Linked DNA regions of Homo sapiens: region 2 is linked to region 1. Evidence: fine-mapped expression QTL. A gene starts in region 1. The other region holds a variant in brackets. All regions are shown on one strand. Distances are between the middles of the regions.

Region 1 (2,909 bases):
TCAAAAAAAAAAAAAAAAAGTTTGTGGAATTCAGAATAGCATTTCTCAGAAAGCCCCGCTACTGCTTGCAAACCTTTTTTTCTAATGACCGTGCACAGGTTTCACTGTCACAGGTTTAATTAAAGTCTTCTGCTTGATCTCAAGTAGCGTGGAGAAAAAATTCCTCAAAAGTGTTGCCATTCAGAGATATTTTCAAGGGACTTTATTAGAAGGACCATCATTTAAGGATGAGATGGTATGACAGAGGGTGACTCTGCTACACCAGGGAAGAACATGCTAGGGAAAACACCTTCTTTCTTTTAAGTCAAGTGTTTTCTGTGTCATCAGATTGCCCAATCATCCCTGGCATCTCTGCTTCTCAACCATAGGCTATGATGTGTATGGTGCTCCCATGAGTTGTGCAGTACACGACCTGCACAACCATATGTGGCAGTCCTGCCTACCCTCAATGGAAGCAGGATGGAGATGTTCCCCTGGGTAAACGTGGCATATGTCCCTCACTATAAGCAAAAAATCAGAGCAAGTGTGAAGTCAGAAGTCCACCCAGAGAGAGAGGCAGAGTTGCAGGACAGGGATGGAATTCCAGTTCTGGTGTTTGTTGTCTTGGAGGCCCAGCTTGACCTCTGCCCTTCCCTTCGCTTGATTATATAAGTTTTCCAATAATGTATTTTATTTTTAAAGCGTAAGTTAGGTTTCTATCACCAACACATTCTATCTAAAAGCCCAAGTCTTTTCCTTAACTTGTCCTAAATGGCCAGTTATTAAGAAATTCCATTGAGGGTTTGGCTGTTGCATACAGCCTTGTGGGCATTTTGCTTATCCACGTTGACTTTCTCATCTGGGACACTGGCCTACGTAGTACGTGATTCCAGCAAACAGGGCAGTATGTTGAGCTCTTGAAATAAGTATGTTGTGACAGCCTTTGTTACAGCATTAAAAGAACAGTCTACTCTCAATGGCTGACCCTTTATTTGTATGCTGACGTCAAAAACAAAACAAGACTGCAGACACACTCTTGCCAATGCTAGAAAGGATGCATGTTTGAAGTGGATTTTTTTCTATTTTTTTGCTTGGAGAGGAGGGTGTGTGGACACCAAGCTGGCCATGGTCCAAGCTGACCTATTTGCCAGCCGACCCCTGTCTGGGCTGCCATAACAAAGTGCCATCATGAACTGGGTGGCTTATAAACAACAGAAATTTATTTCTCACAGTTCTGGAGGCTAAAAGTCCAAGATCAAAGGCACCAGTAGATTTGGTAAACTAGGAAGCGGTGAGGGCCCACTTCCTGGTTTATAGACTGATGGCTGTCTTCTCACTGTGTCCTCAAATGGAAGCTGATGTTTCACAAATATTTTCTGGGTAAATGGATGGGTGAGTGAACTCATGAAGGGATGCTCCATTAGATGAACGCTTGGATAAAGGGCGTTAGTGGAGGGACAGAATTGCAGCTCCGTCCTCCCAGGGGGCGCTGCAGGCACGTCTGCTTGGGCAGGGGCCCGGCGGAAGCGCCGCTCTAGGCTGCAGCCGCGCCCCCAGCCGTATTTCCGCGGGCGCTGAGCACTAGAGAGAGCGTCTTGTGGCTGCGGCCTGCCCCTCAGCCTCCTCCGCGCGGTTACCCCTGTACCCGCCGCCATCCGTCCTGGCGCTCCGGATGAGTCAATGAGGGGCAGGGCCCGAGGAGTGGTCTTCCCAAGAACCCCTGGTGGCCTCCCAAGGCCGGTGCTGTGTACCTCCTCCCCGACAAAAGGGGAAACTGAGGCCCCGAGGGGAGTGGGAAGAGCCGGCTGGACGTCAGGCCCAGCCGCTGGTGCAGTGGTCCGTCCCCTCTGCCGGGGTGGGCCCCTCGGGTTTCGCGTGTCCTCGGGAAAGAGACTGGCGGGTGAGCCGCGCCCTCGGCCTTCGCTGGGCTAAGCCGACCCCATGCAGACGTCAAACCCCCCTAGGTCGGCACAGCCTCTCTGCGGGGAGGCTTAGTGCCCCCTTGAGAAACGGCTTGGCAACGCTGTGCCCGGGGCCTTGCACGCGGGCTGAGGGGGCTAGAGACCTCGCGACTTTTACTCCCCCGACCCCGATCTCCGACTCCTGACTTTGGAAGCCCCCAAAGCTGCTTTTCGGTTGCCTACAAAGTGTCGGTCATTGTGCCACGTCCTTGGAACCGTGAACTCATTTTCTCCTCAATAACCTTTAAAAAGTAGCTGTAAAACCTCCATTTTACAGACCAGTTGGCTGAGGTTTAAATGGAGGACGCTCCCAGGGCCCCAGAGGGGCGAATTCCAGACTCCTTTGCCAGGACCTTGTACTAAGCCCCTTCCCTACGCTTTTCCCTGCCTAGGCCTCGTGGGCTGTGCGGCTATCCTGGAGACAGATGACAGCTCTCCCTTGGATGGCTTTGCTGGTTCCGCACCAGCCAGCGCCCCCATTTTTCCTGCAGCACCCTGATCTGCACTCCCTGAGGGGCTCCCACTGTCCGCGGTGTGAGGATGTCCCTGGGTAAGTGGTGCTGGTCATGAGCACTTTGGGGGACCCTTCAAATTCCCTTCTGGGGGACCCCAGCGGAGGGCATGGTCATGAATTCCGAGAACTGTATGGCAAAGCCGGGTGCAGAGGAGAGCCTGGCTAAGTTCTTTCATTCTCCTGAGCTTGACTTTCTGTAATGTAGGGAAACTGCGAAAGCTCTGTAAGTGGGGAGATCTTGCACGTTTTTCTTGCTTTTGAACCCATGATGTCTGGCTACTTGTAGATACTCAATATTTGTGGGATGAATGAACAATTTAAGCCTTTTTTTTTTTTAACCAGAAATTGGTCTTCTGTGACTTTCTTGATGGGGGCAGATGAGATCTTTGTACTGCATTAAGTGGATAGCGCTCAGGTCCTTTGGGCTTGGCGCTTTGGCAATCTCCAGGCAGCTC
Region 2 (2,909 bases), 28 kb before region 1:
GGAAAGAAAAAAGAGAAAAGCATGTTAAAATAAAAAAAAAAAAAATCACCCCAATTTGCATATATACATATAAATCTTTTTTTTTTTTTTTTTTGAGAGTTTCACTCTCAAAACTCCTGGGCAATAGGAGTTTCACTCCTGTTGCCCAGGCTGGAGTGCAATGGCGCGATCTCAGTTCACTGGAACCTCCGCCTCCCGGGTTCAAGCGATTCTCCTGCCTCAGCCTCCTGAACAGCTGGGATTACACGCGCCCACCACCAAGCCTGGCTAATTTTTGTATTTCTAGTAGAGATGGGGTTTCACCATGTTGTCCAGGCTGATTTCGAATAAATCTTCTTTTAACCAAAAAAATGGTATATCACATTTTACATACTTCCCTGCTCTAAGCTTCATTTGCCTAAAATTGTATCTTCATCTTTCTATCTTGGAACATAGACATCTATCTTGCTGTCTACCTCTATCTCCCTACTCCAAGTCACCAATATCTGTCACCTAGACAACTGCCATAATCTTCCAACTGGTCACCTTGCTTCCACTCTTGCCCTGGTATAATCCGTTCTCCAAACAGAGAGAAAAACATTTTTTAAGTAAAATCTGCTAATGTCAAGATTTCTGCTTCTAAATAGAAGGGAGTAGTTGACAGGCCAATGTTTCTGCTAAGAACTGGAAAGGGTGGATAAAATAGAAAACCATCGTTTTAAAGGCATTGGAGAGCTTTGGAGGCAAAGGACTGGAAGCATTAAAATTCCACAAAGGGGACCAGGGGTGGTAGCTGACACCCGTAATCCCAGTACTTTGGAGGCTGAGGTGAAAAGATAGCTTGAGCCTAGGAGGAGTTTGAGACCAGACAGGGTCTCAACATAGCAAGAACCTATCCCTTAAAAAAAAAAAAAAAAAAAAAAATTAGTGGCTGGGCGCAGTGGCTCACACCTGTAATCCCAGCACTTTTGGAGACCAAAGTGGGTGGATCACAAGGTCAGGAGTTCAAGACCAGCCTGGCCAAGATGGTGAAACCCCATCTCTACTAAAAATACAATAGCTGGGCGTGGTGGCGGGTGCCTGTAATCCCAGCTACTCGGGAGGCTGAGGCAGAGAATTGCTTGAACCCAGGAGGTGGAGGTTGCAGTGAGCCGAGATCGCACCACTGCACTCCAGCCTGGGTGACAGAGCAAGACTCTGTCTCAAAAAAAAAAAAAAAAAAAAAAAATTAGCTGGGCATGTTGGTGCACAGCTCAGCCTCCCAAGCAGCTAGGATTAAAGATAACCATTAGCATTCTTTCATAATATTTTTAAATTAAGGTATTTATATTGCTTTGGACATAATGCTATTGCACAGTTAATAAACTACACTATAGTGTAAACTTGATTTTTTTACACAAGGGTCTTCACTAGGTTGTCCAGGCTGGCTTTGAACTCCTGGGCTCAAGAAATCCTCTGCCTTAGCCTCTGGAGTAGCTGGGACTACAGGTGCACGTGCCACCACACCTGGCTAAAATAACTT[T/C]AATGCACTAGGAGACAAGAAAATGTGTGCAACTCACTTTATTGCAGTGGTCTGGAACCAAGCCTCTGAAACACAGCTACATATATTTATCTGGGCTGGGATCTCCTTGAGGACACAAACTGCCTTACTCACCCTTGTATCCTTTTCTCCAGCTTAGCGTCTGGCTCCCAAGTAAATGCACAATGCTTTTTGAGTGAATGAGCCTCACTCTCCCAGCTCTCCATTCTCCTGGCTGTCAGTTCTGCTGTGGAGTCTCCAACCAGCTGCTTCCTCAGGCCCTCATACTGGGCACATATCCCAGCAAGGGCCACGCCTCCTTGACCTAATCCTGGCTCTTGGGCCACCTTGGTTAATGGACTGCTCTTCTCAGAGTTCCTCAGGCCCTTAAGACCTGGGATGGCTCCTGCCTCACATGCAACAGTGGCGAGAGGCACCCATGATGATCTGATGCCGGATGAAATATGCAGACTTAGGTACTGTATTACTGCTTAGACTTAGGTAATGTATTCTACTGCTGTCCCCTCCACTGTGGCAGACATCTGTCATCAGTTACAGCTTCCTCAAGTGGACCCAGATTCCTTCCCCTGGCATCTGTTCAAGCAGCCACAGCCAGTTGGCAAAAGGTGGCAAAAAAGTCAGGATGGTCCTCAAAGGCCAAGGCAGAAAAAGGACCTGTGACTTCTGGATGCTTCTGCAGGGAACTGACTGCTGGTATGGTGCCTTTAAACATAAATGCCTGCCCCTTAGGCCAGGCATGGTGGCTCACACCTGTAATCTCAACACTTTGGAAGGCCGAGGCGGGTATTTACTTGAGGTCAGAAGTTCGAGACCAGCTGGCCAACATGGCGAAACCCCATCTCTACTAAAAATACAAAAATTAGCTGGGCGTTGCGGCACATGCGCATAGTCCCAGCTACTTAGGAGGCTGAGGCACAAGAATCACTTGAACCTGGGAGGCAGAGGTTGCAGTGAGCCAAGATCACACCACTACACTGCAGCCTGGGCAACAGTGAGGCTGACTCAAAAAATAAAAAAACAAAAAACATGAGAAAAAAAAAAAACAAAGAATGCCTGGCAGACCATTAATGTGCCAAATTCATCAAGACAGGCTTACCAGCGTGATTTTTGCCCCAACTCCAGCCAAGGTGGTTTTAACTTCAAGTGGGGAGATTAACTGCACCTTTTCACCATGGCCCCTGGGACATGTGTAGATTCCTCCCTCTGTGAATCAGAGATGACAGTTCATGCGTGCACATCCTTAGATCATGTCATTGCTGCAATTTTTCTTTCTCTTAAAAACAGGTCTCACTCTGGCACCCAGGCTGGGCTGCAGTGGTGCCATCATTAACTCATTGAATCCTCGAATTCCTGGGCTTAAGCAATCCTCCTGCCTCAGCCTCCTGAGTAG

The links.
Region 2: its variant is fine-mapped to the expression of SNHG11 in whole blood (TOPMed, PIP above 0.99).

Annotation. Positions count from the first base shown.
Region 1 is chr20:38,445,134-38,448,042 of GRCh38, forward strand. It overlaps SNHG11 (small nucleolar RNA host gene 11), which reads left to right and starts at 1,521. Exons shown (of 5, transcript NR_003239.1): 1 at 1,521-1,879; 2 at 2,333-2,490. RefSeq lists enhancers at 1,357-1,406, 2,356-2,909.
Region 2 is chr20:38,416,959-38,419,867 of GRCh38, forward strand. It overlaps LOC124904901 (a long non-coding RNA gene), which reads right to left and starts at 54. Exons shown (of 2, transcript XR_007067582.1): 1 at 1-54. The variant T/C (reference allele first, on the strand shown) is at 1,502.